Linked DNA regions of Homo sapiens: region 1 is linked to region 2. Evidence: fine-mapped expression QTL. Tissue or cell type: monocytes after LPS. Region 2 holds a variant in brackets; the other region holds the start of a gene. All regions are shown on one strand. Distances are from middle to middle.

Region 1 (8,146 bases), 430 kb after region 2:
AATGCTCAACTCCCTCTTGTTTCTTTGGCTAATATAAACCATTTTGTTCAGAAAAAAAAAAAAGACATAGTCAAGTGAATTTTAGCGACTGAAAACAACATTTTGTTATTTTATGAAACATTTATCCTCCCTCATCTCTTGCTTTTTTTGGGGGTGGGGGGAAATAGGGTCTCACTCTGTCACCCAGGCTGGAGTGCAGTGATGCAATCATGGCTCACTGCAGCCTTGACCTCCCTGGACTCAGGTGATCCTCCCACCTCAGTCTCCCGAGTAGCTGGGACCACAGGTGCACACCACCACATCTGGGTAATTTTTGTTCGTTTGTTTGTTTTTTTGTAGACACAGGGTTTCGCCGTGTTGTTCAGGCTGGTCTGGAACTCCTGGGATCAAGCAATTGGCCTGCTTTGGCTTCTGAAAGTGCTAGGATTACAAGCATGAGCCACCGAGCCTGGCCTCTTTTTTTTTTTTTTTTTTGGAATATAGAGAAAGGTCTCACTTTGTTGCCCAGGATGGTCTCAAACTCCTGGGCTCAAGCAATCCTCCTGCCTTGACCTCCCAAATTGCAGTTACAGGTGTGAGCTACCATGTGGGGCCCTTTAGTTCTTAATATACAAAAATAAATGTGACTCTTGGGAATTCCAATATAAGTAACCAAAAATTTAAACATTCAATTTATAAAACACAAAAACTATCTGAAATTAATGTTTAAGATGTCTGCAATAGTCTCTTTAATCTTTTTAAAATGACAATATCCATTTCAGTTCTCTACAACTCTCAAAAGTTCTTGATAAAAACAAAAGGGTTATTTGTCCAAACCCACAGAATGTTTAACACCAAGAATGAATCCTAACTGTGGATGTGATAACATGTCAATGTAGGTTCATCAATTGTAATATACGTACCACTCTGATGAGAGATTTTGGCTCTGTAGGGGTAGGCGATACATGGGAAATCTCTATACCTTCCACTCAGTTTTGTTGTGAACTTACAACTGCTCTAAAAAAGAAAATTCATTTTTCAAAATAGCAGGTGGGATCAAAATTTACCCAACTTTTTTTTTTTTTTTAGATGGAGTCTCGTTCTATTGCCAGGCTGGAGTGCAGCTGCGTGATCTCAGCTCACTTCCACCTCCCAGGTTCAAGTGATTCTCGTGTCTCTGGGACTACAGGCATGCGCCACCATGCCCAGCTAATTTTTTTGTATTTTTAGTAGAGATGGGGTTTCACCATGTTGGCCAGGATGGTCTTGATCTCCTGACCTCTTGATCCGCCCGCCTCGGCCTCCCAAAGTGTTGGGATTACAGGCGTGAGCCACCGCGCCCGGCCCTAACTTTCTTCTTAATGAATGAAGAAATACTGTTTTTAAAAAATAACCCTCACTGAATGTGAACTGAGTTTCTTGTCAAAAAATGTGCAATTATTACAGAATATATCATCTTAACCAATTATCAGTAATCTTATCAAATGCTAAAAGAATTGGCAGCTTTAAAAATTAAAATGATGAAGCTAAGTGCTCATATGTAGTTGAATAGAGTATCCTTAGACTTTTTTTTTCTTTTTTTGAGATGGAGTCTCACTCTGTCGCCCAGGCTGGAGCGCAGTGGCATGATCTCGGTTCACTGCAACCTCCGCCTCCCGGGTTCAAGCCATTCTCCTGTCTTAGCCTCTCGAGTAGCTGAGACTACAGGCATGTGCCACCACGCTCAGCTAATTTTTGTTATTTTTAGTAGAGATGGGGTTTCACCATGTTGGCCAGACTGGTCTCGAAAATCCTGACCTCAAGTGATCCCCCCGCCTCAATCTCCCAAAGTGCTGGGATTACAGGCGTGAGCCACTGCACCCGGCCCCTGAGACACCTCTTTTTATATTTAGGCTTACGCAATTTTGGTATCTTGAAAGCAATTTTTTTAAAAAGTGACGAAATAAATAAAGTGACTAAAAGTTTGAAGTTTGAACTGGGTCAGTTTGACAAATTAAGAAGGGTGCCAGGAGGAAGTCTGAGGAAAAGCAGCAGCTTAATGCCACCGCCATCTCCAAGCAGCGTTCCAGGCGCCAGCACTGTTAGCAGCAGTCCTCTGCGTACCCAAGAGTACCGCAGGGCCAGAACACGAGAAAGATGCGCGAAGAGGATTTCCTTCTAGAGAGAGAATAAAGAACACCAAGAGTCCAACAATTACCATCTTGTATAGGAGAAAAACAATGCAAAGGAAAAAACGTGCAACCAGCAGATAAAATACTTATGTCAACCCAGGTTCTAAGGACCTTTTCCCAAAGTATCCCTCTAAACTGGTAACATTAGCTTAGGGCAGAGTCAAGAAGAAAGTTATGCCATTAACACAGATGAAAATACTGAACGTTTTCTATGAAAAGTCACCCGATTAAACACTGCCAAGAGGGAAAAACAGTGCAAGTCCAGTAAAGCACGAGACACGTAGAAAATTCAAGCTATGTAGCCAAATCGCTCTCTCTGAAGAAAACAGCAAGCCAACTGAACCCAGCACGGAGTGGAAGGCGTAAAGAGCTGTCATCGTGGCGGTAACAACTCCACCGGGCGGCTGAGCGTCTAGAAAGAGGCTGCGGTTCCTGGTTCCACATCAGGAGGCACTCTCCACAAGGTCTACACCGCCGCTCCCGGGAAGGCACCTCCAGGGCGGCCAGCAAGCCCCCCGAGTGGGGACAGGCAGTGCCTTCCTCGCCTCGTCCCCGCGCGGCGTGGCCCGGAGGTGGCCCACTCGCCCCGCCCCCGCAGGCCGCGGCTCCAGGGGGCGTCCGGCCGCCCTCCCGGGGCCCCGAACCCGCGCCAGCCGCACCGCGCCTGCCCTCTTCCTGGACCCCGCGAAGCACCTGCCTGGGCCCCTCTTCGAAAGACTGGGAGGAAGGAGTCAAGGAGCTGCCGGGGAGGCTGACAGAGCCAGAGGCTGGAGCTCCCCTACGGGAGCCGGGAGCATAACCCTGCTCCTCCCGCCAATGGGGGCGACAAAAGCCGTGGAAGGTTGCTCAGGGGCTGGATCTCCTGCTGTCCGGGCCCCAAGCCCTCTCAGCTGTGGAGTTTCGGTTGGTGCACGAGGGCTCGAATTTCCTCCGCACACCGGAGACCCAAGACGGGACGGTGTTGCGACTTGGGGGCTGGGGTGAGGGAGGGCTCGGCGCGAGCGGACGGCACCGCACAAAGGAAGAGGGGACTGAGGGGAGACGAGGGGACTGAGGGGAGACGAGCGTCCCGTTACCTCGATCCTCGACCCTGTTCTTCCTGATGTCGCTAAGGTTGCAGCCACGTTACCACGCTCCCAGAGCCCCGGCCGCCCTCAGCGGAACCTCACCAACCCCGCGCGAGCACCCGGCGGACGCGCGCTCTCCTGCGCGGCCCCGCGGAGCCCCGGCGGGCGCTTGGCGTCCTCTCGCCTCAGCCCCCGCGAGCCGCGGCCTCTGGGGGCGGGGCGGGCTGGGCGGGGCTGCGCACGGCACTCTGGGAAGTGTGGTTCTCGGGACCTCCTCCCCGAGGCCACCCCCACGGCCTCGCCCCCGCGGCTCCCTAGTGGGCGGCCGGGTCTCAGGGACTGGGCAGTGTTGCCCGGCCTGGTGAAGGCGGACCAGGGCGTGGCGGAGGTCCCCATAACAAATCTTGAAATAAAACACTGCCTAAATACCTTTGAGCTTATCCATGCTTCACTTCTGCGGCGGTACAAAATTTAGTTTCTTTGTATGTCCATCAAATCCCCTTCTGCGGTTGTGAGTGTTCCTGGGATTTATGTCTTTGAAAAAAGAAGGGGAAAAAAAGGTTTGCATTTATTCCTGTGTCACTTTCACCACGTGCTCTACAAAGGATATACAAAACAACTGTGTTTATAAATACACACCCACAGTTTGTAAACCTAAGGAAGCAGTTGATTGACCTGAGAGCTCGCTGCTAAAAAGCAGTGCAAGTGGCCATGCGCGGTGGCTCACGCCTGTAATCCCAGCACTTTGGGAGGCTGAGGCGGGCGCATCACGAGGTCAGGAGTCGAGACCATCCTGGCCAACATGGTGAAACTCCGTCTGTACTAAAAATACAAAAATTAGCTGGGCGTGGTTGTGCGTGCCACCAATCCCAGCTATTCGCAAGGCTGAGGCAGGAGAATTGCTTGAACCCGGGAGTCGGAGGTTGCAGTGAGCTGAGATTGTGCCATTGCACTCCAGCCTGGCGACAGAGCAAGACTCCGTCTAAAAAAAAAAAAAAAAAAAAAAAAAGCAATGCAAGTAAAAGTGCTGTTGAAATGAATTAATTTTTCTATAATGTCAATAAAGTGGAATGTGTGAGGCGGGAGATCAAGAGACAGCAAAAAAACAAAATTTTTTTTAAAGAAAGATATTCCCCTAAATGTGTCTTTTGCCAGACTAACCTCAAACTTTCACAATCCTAGGAGTCTATTTCAGAATAAATTTAATCCTAGGACCTTTATTAATATTAACACATATGAACATTAGCACATTGATTTTAATAGAAATGAACATATATATATCTGTATATATATATGCATCTTCTATAAAAACCCCAAAGCAACTATTTGAATTTGAAATTTTATTTCTAGAAAAAAAATCACATTTTTTACATTGAAATATAAATAATTCTTAATATTTCAAAATATTCCTCTTTAGAGCATTAGTATTTTGCACATTTAATGCAAATACCTTTAGAAAAATAGAGTAAGATGAGTTTTAAAGAAGTATGCAGTGAAGAAAAGTCATAAAATGTGTCTGGAACGTGATGTAAAAATTGTTGGGACTCAGAAATCGATACCCCAAAATATGGTGCTTTGCCGCGCTGAACTGAGGAAGCAGCTTCAAGGTGTCTCTTACCTTCCCCATTACCCCTCCTGCCTCTCAATTCTTTGTCTCTCCCAAAGCACCAAATGATGTCGTTCTCTGAATTTCCCTTATCTGCCTAGAAACTAGACCTGCCAAAGAGGAACATATTTGCCTTACCTGATTTTTCATTTACTTAACTCATATTGGAGGAAGAAAGACTGAAGTCTGTCAACACTCTTGGACAGACTTTTGTCACAAACTATTGTCTGCTGTATGGGCTCAACACACTTTTTCCCAGGCCATTGTATGTTCCCCATTTTCCCCTAAAAGTCCTTTACTATACCTTAAGTTGCCACATTTCCCCAATCTCCCTTTCCCCCATAAAGAAGAGTATATAAACGTCTCTACCCCATTGAGTCATTGGGTAATCATTCTCCTGAAATCTCCCTGTGTTATGCACATTAAAATAAATTTTGTATGTCTTTTTTCCTATTAGTCTGCCATTTGACAGTTGATTTTTCAGTGAACCTTCCAAGGGAAAAGGGAAAGCTTCCCTGTATTCCCTTTATTAAACATAAAACACAATATGTATTTTATTTATTTATTTATTTTATTTTATTTTTTTGAGACGGAGTTTTGCTCTTGTCGCCCAGGCTGGAGTGCAGTGGCACAATCTCAGCTCACTGCAACCTCCACCTCCCAGGTTCAAGTGATTCTCCTGCCTCAGCCTCTGCAATAGTTGGGATTACAGGTGTCTGCCACCACGCCCGGCTAATTTTTGCATTTTTAGTAGAGACAGGGTTTTACCATGTTGGCCAGGCTGGTCTCGAACACCTGACCTCAAGTGATCCACTCGCCTCAGCCTCCCAAAGTGCTGGGATTACAGGCATGAGCCACCACGCCCGGCCTACAATATGTATTTAGTAAGACCATGTTAATAGAAATTTTGTTTTTTATAGCCTAAGCTTTTATTTTATTTTATTTATTTTATTTTAGAGACAGAGTCTCACTCTGTTGCCTAGGCTAGAGTGCAGTGAGTAGCACAATCATGGCTCACTGTAATCTTGATTTCCCCGGCTCAGGTGATTCTCCCACCTCCCGAGTAGCTGGAATTACAGGCCCACACCACCACACCTGGCTAATTTTTTTGTTTGTTTTGTTTTGTTTTGTTTTGTTTTGTAGAGATGGGGTTTCTCCATGTTGCCCAGGCTGGTTGTCAAACTCCTGGTCACAAGGGATCTGCCTTTCTTGGCCTCCCAAAGTGCTGGGATTACAGGTGTAAGCCACCATTCCTGGCCACTTTTCTTGTAATAAGGTGCACAGTAACTCCTAAAAATGCTTATAAAAAAGAGCACAACTGCTCTTTTTCTTCTGCTAATTGACATATACACAATAAACTATTTGTAGTTACTAACAAATCAAAGAAATATACACAATATTTCAATATTATTATCATCTATTTATCGAAGAACATTTTTTGAGCACCAGACACTGAGCTAGGAACTGGGAAATACGCAGTAGACAAAATTGAATAGTCCCTGCTCTCATGGAGACTTAGGATCTAGACTCGGAGACAGAGAATTAAACAGTGAATAATGAAAAGGTATGCATGGGGTGGCCAGGGGTTTGGGGAGCACCTAAGATACACCTAATCTAGAGCCTTTTATTGGGGCAGAGGAGTCTGGCAAAAATTCTGAAAATTAAATGAAATTTTTAAACCAAATAGCTATAAACTGGGGCAAAAAAAATCTTTCCCTAAAAAGTGATATATCTGTAACAATGCTCTCAAATAATTACTTAAAAATATATACAGTATCTTACAAAATAAGACATACCTCAACTAAAACAAAACACACATTTCCTAAATCGGACGAAATGTCTTCTTAGTTTTTACCCATTCCTCCCTAGCTCCATTTGAGAATAAGCAAGACTAGCCTATAATAAGTAAGGATCTAAGAAATTCCTTCCCTTCCCTCAAAGTCCGATAAATTAAAACTGGAAAGGATCTGATAGCTGTTTGTTCATTTTATGATTGTACTTTAGTCAGAAAAAAATTGCAATATTTTAACCCCAATCAACATTTGCATTTTTTTTTTTTAAATTTGAGATGGAGTCTCGCCTTGTTACCCAGGCTGGAGTGCAATGGCACGATCTTGGCTTACTGCAACCTCCGTCTCCCAGGTTCAAGTGATTCTCCTGCCTCAGCCTCCTGAGTAGCTGGGTTTCGGCCTCCCAAAGTGCTGGGATTACAAGCATGAGCCACCGCGCCGGCCAACATTTGCATTTTAAGTCTTTATCTTTAATCCTGGGATAAAAGGCTTTATAACCATCAAAAGAATTTCAGATGTGGGCTGGATATGGTGGCTCATTCCCTGGATGACAGAGCCAGACAATTTTTCTTTCTCTTAAAGGAGTCGGGGAGCAGGGAAAGAATTTCAGATGTGGCTTGCCGAGGGATTTGGAAAGATTAATGAAGAAGGTTATTTTATCTTCATTTGCTAGGGAGGCAAAGCTTGCAACCAGAGAGCAGGTCCCAGAAGAGTTGCTAAGGTTCTTTGTCTATGGAAACGTACTTAAAGAGCCTGAACACCGCCAGCAAGACCACTATCTTCCTGTCCAGGTCAGGGTTACTGGCTTGCAGTTACATTTCATCCCAATCCTTTGACTCCTATCCTGTCACCCTCCTACAAAACCAGCCTTTACTGTGGCACTTCAGCTTCCCTCAACAATCATTTCCCGCCTTTTATCCTAAGACACACATGTGGATGGCTATGTTTTCTGACCTTAGGCTGGTGGCTCAACTTGTGCTGTTTTAATAAATTAATGACAGTTCTTCCATCCACTACCATGCAATCAGCCTGACATAGGTATCTCTAAACCTTTGCTGACCATTTTCTGATATATTTCTCTGATATATATTGTTGTTTTGTTTTTGTTTTTATTTTGTTAAAGAGATGGATGGGGTGGAGTTTGGTGGGGTGCGGGGATGGGGGGATTTTGCTATGTTGCCACGGCTGGTCTTGAACTCCTGGCCTCGAGGGATCCTCCTGCCTTAGCTTCCCGCCTTAGCCTTCGGAGTGGCTGGGATTACAAGGCTCAAGTCACAGCACCCAGCATCCCTGAAATATTTAAAGTTCCCAATTTTTCTGTGGGTCTTTGTAATTGCTGTTCCTTCTACCCCTTTGCCTGGTGAACTCTTTCTAATCATCTAGTATTAACTTAGAAAACTTTTTAATTAGGAAACCTTTCTTGGTTACAGTCCCCCCTCTCCAGTTTTGGGTTACTGCCTCCTATATATGCTCATCTTACAACTTATTTTTGCCCCTAAAGTAGCACTTAGTGAGCATTTTAAGAAGTTGTCT
Region 2 (8,000 bases):
ATGTTGTGGATGAGGAAGCCCAGAATCTTTTAAACGAAAATAATGCAGCAGGATACTCCTGTGGTCCAGGTACGTGAACCAGATGAATAAATTGGTATACTATGGAGTACAAAAACGTCTCTAGGGAGCATTTTTTGAGTAAATATGTAATGCATTAGTTCTTCTTCTGTTCCTCATTCATGTGTAATATTTCAGAAACAAAACAGAATTTGTTATCTCCTATTTTTTTTATTTTCCATATTTGTAAGTGGGTTACCTTATTAGTGAGATCTCCAAATGTATCATTTATATCATGGCTTTTACTTCTAGTAGGGTTAGTCCAAACATTTTCCCCCAGCCATTCTCATTTTAATTTTAGTAGATAATTTTAACCAGAAATTTTATACCAAAATGTACTTGATCATTTCTTCCTAACTTTTCTAGTTAAAACATTGAAACTATTTATGGATATTGGTTTATACACTGCCTTCTTTTGCAGGCAAATGAAAACTTTTCTACTTCCTCAATAGTTTTATAAATTCCTCTTGGCCTATATATTCCTCTCTCAGGTACATTAAAGATGAATGGGAAGTTATCAGAAGAGAGAACAGAAGATACAGACTGCGATGGTTCACCTTTACCTGAGTATTTTACTGAGGTAACAATAATACCTAAACAACCTAGGATATGACAGCTTGTTACAATTATGGGTTTAACCCAGAAGGTGAAATAATCAGAGATTCTTTCCTGTTTTACTCAAAAATTAAATTTAGGAGGAAAACGGAGATTAATTTCATGTGTTACATTAAAGTGTCATCCTATCCTAGTGAAAGAATCATTACACAAATTTTCTCAAATTAAAAAAAATAGAAAAAAAAACAATTAGTTTTCAAAAATGTAATGCTAAACTTTATAAATTATTCTTTAAAACCTTAAAACTTAGGATCTTCTGGGATATTAGGCTAAGGAAAAGCATGAAATAGTAGATAAATTATATTTCAGGTTCTTCAAGCTCAGCATCACCCTATGTATACAAATCTGACCTTGCTTAATATTCTGGGATAATTCTCCTCATTATCCTTCTTAGTCTTCCTACTTCATATCTTCAAAATTATTAAAACTGTGCTGGTTTGAATGTTCTTACACTAGTTATCATGCATGCTTATACTTACACACAATCTCATCCATACATGACTGTTCATTAAATATTTACAAATAATGTGTATATATACAAGGAAGCTTACGGCTGATAAGTATGTATTTCTCAAGCTACAAGAATAATCATACAAATATTAGATATCTCAAAATGTGGCATTCGCTAGTGGTTTTTCTTAAGATGCTCTTTCATATAATCAGAATATTAATAATTACAGTAAAAATAGGCTCTTTAGAGAAGATTTTCTGAACATTTTAAGTCATGACTTTATCACATTTTTATTAATATTTAATAGTAATATTAAAATGCCCCTTAAAATGTATGTTGTAATGTCTTTTAACTAAGAAAATAAAAATCTTTAATTGCCATTTCAGAAATGTGATGTAGGCCGGGCGCGTTGGCTCATGGCGGTAATCCCAGCACTTTTGGAAGGCCGAGGAGGGCAGATCACTTGAGGTCAGGAGTTCAAGACCAGCCTGGCCAACATGGTGAAACCCTGTCTCTGCCAAAAATATAAAAAATTAGCCAGATGTGGTGGCGCACACCTGTATTCCCAGCCCCTCGGGAGGCTGAGGCAGGAGAATCACTTGACCCAGGAGACAGAGGTTGCATTGAGCGGAGATCATGCCGTTGCACTCCAGCCTGGGCAATGGAGCGAGACTCAGTCTCAAAAAAAAAAAAGTCATGTCACATGCTTTTTCTTTTAAAAAAGTAAGGAAAGCTTGTTAATATAGATTCTCATTTATACTGAGCTATGACTGTTTTATGGCAGAAAACTTCTTTCAAGTTATCTTTTTTTTATTATTTTCATTATGAAAATATTACATCCTTATTGTAAAAAAGTTTCCAACAGAATCTTCAAAACTGTTAAGTCCTAGCCGGGCATGGTGGCTCACGCCTGTAATCCCAGCACTCTGGGAGGCCAAGGTAGGCGGATCACCTGAGGTTGGGAGTTCAAGACCAGCCTGGCCAACATGGAGAAACCCCGTCTCTACTAAAAATACAAAATTAGCCGGGCAAGGTGGTACATGCCTGTAATCCCAGCTACTCGGGAGGCTGAGGCAGGAGAATCCTTTGAACCTGGCAGACGGAGGTTGCGGTGAGCCGAAATCACGCCATTGCCCTCCAGCCTGGGCAACAAGAGCGAGATTCTGTCTCAAAAAAAAAAAAAAGTCCCTTTTTAAAAACATATTTATCTTATTCATCTGAGGTAGCTATTGTTAAAAATTTTGATTTCTACCTTTCCACTGTGCATATCAAAACATAAATATTTGTATACATACATAATTTTTTAATATACGTTTTATCACATGGTTCTGAATTTGGTTTTCACTTAACAATCATTACCCTCTTTCCATGTGAGACGTATAAATTTGCCTCATACTTTTTAAAGCCTTCCTATCATTTTATTGTAAGGTTATACCATAATTTATTAAATTGGCCATCTGTTAATGAATTTTAGATTTCTTATCAATAAGAGGAAACAAATTATTAGGAACTATATAATTGTCTTGCCACTGGAGTACAGATAGATCCTGCAAATACATGCATTGAGAATACATTTTGGGCTAGATAAATTAGTGCTTCCTGAATAAATGGGACTTTTGCTTTAGAATCTGTTTTAAATAATGGTAAACAAAGCAAAGAAAATGAGGGAACAAATTTAGGAAAGGAGTAACAGGGATCTTAGATTAAAACATTTAAAAATTTTATTTGTATCTAATTCTAGGAACACGTTTAAATCACTATGGCAATTATATTCATAAGCAGACAAATTTAAAATTTGCAAATATGACTAATCTCCCCTAGCTGAAAAGAAGACCAAGCTGGTATTCTGGAAAAGTTTTCTGTTTCATCTTGTATTTCTAGAATATTACCTACATTTTAGAACTGGCTAGTTTTAAAAATTATTTAGAACTTCTGACAATAATCTTTTGTAAGTTCTTGAAATCACCCTAAACAAATTGTATATTATTTACTGAATTGGTTCTAACAGTATATTCTGTAACTTTGAAAGTTTTATCATGTGGCAAAAGTTAAGATGCTAACCATTGGTATTACAAAAGTATAGGAATATCTTCTTACAGAAGAAAGATTATACCTCTGATAGCTATTTATACATTCATTGTATTTCTTATTCAGTATTGTAATTGTACTCTTTGGTACCTCTTAGTGAAGTACTTCAGGTCAATGCCTGTGTCTCATTTAAGAATGAAAGAATGAATGCTAATCGTATACATTACTATAAATTATTGTCTACAGTTTCAAAACCATTCAGCTATTGAACTCATCTGACTAATTTTGCTGGGGATAATAGGGTAAGAAGAGGTGTTAGGGTTTCTGTCCTAAATTTGCTTGTCCAGTCTAGTAGTCAGCTTGAGGGAAGTACACATGTAAATAAGTAAATAATTTTTAAAAAGCTATAGAAACATATTCTGTTAAATGTTTATATGGAGTTCAGTGGGACCTACAAAGAAGGGGGGAAATGGTAGGGGCTACACAGGAGTAGGTGGATAAAGTTATTAAAGCTTTCTAAAGAATTAGCATCTTAAAGGTATTTGATAGTTAAGCTAGGAAAGAGCATTCCATACATACCGTGGAGCTGCTTTAGCAGAGGAATGAAGGCATAGATGAGCCTGGAACATTCAGGACACTAAGTCATTGCGAGTAGGGTATCACAGGGTGTCTTGAAAGCTAAACCTAAAAAGATAGGCAAGGTATTAGTTCATGAAGTGACTTACATGCCATGCCAAGGAATTTGATCTTTCCACATCTCTTGCCACTGAAATGGATCAATATGCTTTCTAATTCTGGTTATTTTTTAATGGCTTTAATTTCTTCAAACATTGTCTTCTTATGTAGTGTTTTTAATTTCTTAAGCAAAAACAAGGCAAAAACTTTTAGTGACTCTCCATCACCTGAGGATAATCCTGCTTGACTGGTTGGATCTTAGGACTGGCTTTATGGGCATTCAACCAGTGCAATCACACAGAACCCTGTGCTTGTAAGAGCCTCCTACTCCTAATATGCTATAGTGCTGTGCTATCACCAACTTGAAGTTCTTAGTAAGTTTTTAACAAGAGATACCTTATTTGCATGTGACTCTTGGCACTACAAATTAGGTAGTTCGTCCTAGATCAAGGAGATGTCTCCTCTACTCTCAAGTTACTGGATCTGGATTCCTTGAGCACTAGGATTGTAAAATAACCTTCAAAGGGGCTGACCACGATAAAAAAAAATCTTAAATATATTCAGTGAGGCAGTACCACAGCTGCCTCCTCTTCCAAAGGTCCTTCAGTCCATAGTGACAAGAAACTGAAGGCCAATCTTCTTAACGCAACCCTCCCCCATACACAAGTGAACTTTACAAAAATAGTGGTAATTGGTTAATACAGGTATCACTGTAG[CT/C]TTTTTTTTTTTTTTTGAGTAACAGCAAGATTTATTGTGAAGGGCAAAAGAACAAAGCTTCCACACACAGTGTGGAAGGGGACCCAAGCAGGTTGCCCCACTGTAACTTATTTCTAATTGAGCTTTACCTCACCATTTTCATTTAATAATTGTGTTATTAAAATTTTCATATTTATAATAGCACTTAACTCTTATAAAAGGCTTTGTACTTTCTAAAATCATTATACACATACTATATTCTTAGACCAGGATTGTAATGGGGAATAAGAAATCCAAATGACTTTAGTTGGAAAAAAATTTTAATCCAGACTAAAATGAGCAGCTTCTCGAAAGAGATGAGTTTCCTTTTAGTTGACAGTGGATTAAAACCTTTTTTCTTCTACTGTAGAACTTCTACATTTACATCAACTAAATTGAAATTATTATCAGGGTAATTTAATTATGGTACTTTTTAACTCTACAAAGTCTGTAACTGAAAGGTCATATTACAGGTGTCATTTTTATTAAATGGATGAAATAACCTATGTCACAGACATAAGTGTGTGTGGGCACACAGTGGTGAACAGATCGACATGATTCCTGCCTTGGTAGAGCTTAATGATGGAGAGGAAAGGAGAAAAAATCAAACACACAAATAGATATGTAATTACAAGTTGTGTTAAGGTCTGTGAAGTTTGTTTGTTGTTTTTAAGTGCCACACACACACACACACAAAAAGAATAACCAAGGAAACCTGCTTTAGATTGGGTGGATAGAAAACATCTTCAGGAGGAGAAGACACAATGCTGAATTTTTTAGTAAGGATTCACCCTTAGAAGGGCTTTGTGGTAGGAAGAGATGAGTGATTTTGAAGAACTGAAAGACCCATGAATTTGAAGCCACTGGGTAAAGGGGAGATTATAAAAGTAGACAGGGGCCAGATAATTCAGGGCCTTCAAGGGAATTTCCTATTTGTTAAGAAAATTTGTCCTGATAAAGATTCAATTGTATAATTTACCGACCATTTAAGAATACAATTTGGGGGTGGTCACTTCCAAAATGACCGAATAGGAACAGCTCCAGTCTGCCACTCCCAACGAAATCGACGCAGAAGACAGGTGATTTCTGCATTTCCAACTGAGGTGCCTGGTTCATCTCAATGGGACTCGTTGGACAGTGGGTGCAGCCTACAGAGGGTGGGCTGAAGCAGGGTGGGGCGTCGCCTCACACGGGAAGCACAAGGTGTCAGGGGATTTCCCTTTCCTAGCCAAGCAAAGCCATGACAGACTGTACCTGGAGAAATGGTATACCCCTGACCAAACACTGTGCTTTTCCCACAGTCCCAGCAACCAGCAGACCAGGAGATACTGTCCCATGTCTGGCTCAGCGGGTCCCAAGCCCACGGAGCCTTGCTCACTGCCAGCGCAGCAGTCTGAGATCAACCTGTGACACTGCAGCTTGACCAGTGGGGGGCATCCACCATTGCTGAGGCTTGAGTAGCTCACAGTGTAAACAAAGCGGCCGGGAAGCTTGAACAGGGCAGAGCCCACCGCAACTCAGCAAGGCCTACTGCCTCTCTAGATTCCACCTCTGGGGGCAGGGCAGAGCAGAACAAAAGGAAGCAGACAGCTTCTCCAGACTTAAATGTCCCTGTCTGACAACTCTGAAGAGAGCAATGGTTCTCCCAGCATGGCGTTCGAACTCTGAGAATGGACAGACTGCCTCCTCAAGTGGGTCCCTGATCCCCGTGTAGCCTGACTGGGAGACATCTCCCAGGAGGGGCCGACAGACACCTCAAACAGGCGGGTGCCCCTCTGGGATGAAGCTTCCAGAGGAAGCATCAGGCAGCAATATTTGCTGTTCTGCAGCCTCCGCTGGTGATACCCAGGCAAACAGGGTCTGGAGTGGACCTCCAGCAAACTCCAACAGACCTGCAGCTGAGGGGCCTGTTAGAAGGGAAACTAACAAACAGAAAGGAATAGCATCAACATCAACAAAAAGGACATCCACACCAAAACCCTATCTGTAGGTCACCAACATCTAAGACCAAAGGTAGATAAAACCACAAAGATGGGGAGAAACCAGAGCAGAAAAGCAGAAAATTCCAAAAACCAGAGTGCCTCTTCTCCTCCAAAGGATCGCAGCTCCTTGCCAGCAAGGGAACAAAACTGGACAGAGGATGAGTTTGACAAGTTGACAGAAATAGACTTCAGAAGGTCGGTAATAACAAACTTTCCCAGGCAAAAGGAGCATGTTCTAACAAGTCGCAAGAAAGCTAAAAACCTTGAAAAAAAGGTTAGATGAATGGCTAACTAGAATAAACAGTGTAGAGAAGACCTTAAATGACCTGATGAAGCTGAAAACCACAGCACGAGAACTTCATGACACATGCACAAGCTTCAATCGCCGATTCGATCAAGTAGAAGAAAGGATATCAGTGATTGAAGATCAAATTAATGAAATAAAGCAAGAAGACAAGATTAGAGAAAAAAGAGTGAAAAGAAATGAACAAATGCTCTTAGAAATATGGGACTGTGTGAAAAGACCAAATCTACATTTGATTGGTGTACCGGAAAGGACAGGCAGAATGGAACCAAGTTAGAAAACACTCTTCAGGATATTATCCAGGAGAACTTCACTAACCTAGCAAGGCAGGCCAACATTCAAATTCAGGAAATACAGAGAACACCACAAAGATACTCCTTGAAAAGAGCAACCCCAAGACACATAATTGTCAGATTCACCAAGGGTGCAATGAAGGAAAAAATGTTAAGTGTGCAGCCAGAGAGAAAGGTCAGGTTGCCCACAAAGGGAAGCCCATCAGAATAACAGCGATCTCTCAGCAGAAAGCCTACAAGCCAGAAGAGAGTGGAGGCCAATATTCAACATTCTTAAAGGAAAGAATGTTCAACTCAGAATCTCATATCCAGCCAAACTAAGCTTCATAAGTGAAGGAGAAATAAAATCCTTTGCAGACAAGCAAATGCTAACAGATTTTGTCACCACCAGGCCTGCCTAACAAGAACTCCTGAAGGAAGCACTAAACATGGAAAGGAACATCCAGTACCAGCCACTGCAAAAACATACCAAGTGGTAAAGACTATCGATGCTGTGAAGAAACTGCATCAATTAACAGGCAAAATAACGAGCTAACATCATAATGACAAGATCAAATTCACACATAACAATATTAACCGTAAGTGTGTATGGGCTAAATGCCCCAATTAAAAGACACAGACTGGCAATTGGATAAAGAGTCAAGACCCATTGGTGTGCTGTATTCAGGAGACCCATCTCATGTGCAATGACGTGCATAGGCTCAAAATAAAGGGATGGGGGAAGATCTACCAAGCCAATGGAAAGCAAAAAAAGCAGGGGTTGCAATCCTAGTCTCTGATAAAACAGACTTTAAACCAACAAAGATCAAAAAAGACAAGGCCACTATATAATGGTAAAGGTATCAAATCAACAGGAAGAA

Evidence for each region. PIP is the estimated chance that this variant, and not a neighbour inherited with it, causes the effect.
Region 1: it holds the start of KLHL8, and the variant in region 2 is fine-mapped to the expression of KLHL8 in monocytes after LPS (Quach 2016, PIP 0.95).

Annotation. Positions count from the first base shown.
Region 1 is chr4:87,217,192-87,225,337 of GRCh38, forward strand. KLHL8 (kelch like family member 8) reads right to left here and starts at 3,427. Exons shown (of 10, transcript NM_020803.5): 1 at 3,227-3,427. RefSeq lists an enhancer at 2,429-3,041 and silencers at 2,547-2,816, 3,157-3,646.
Region 2 is chr4:86,785,300-86,793,299 of GRCh38, forward strand. It overlaps PTPN13 (protein tyrosine phosphatase non-receptor type 13), which reads left to right. Exons shown (of 48, transcript NM_080683.3): 39 at 1-69; 40 at 549-637. Among named protein-coding and RNA genes, the nearest start is that of SLC10A6, 60 kb to the right of the region's middle. The variant CT/C (reference allele first, on the strand shown) is at 4,543.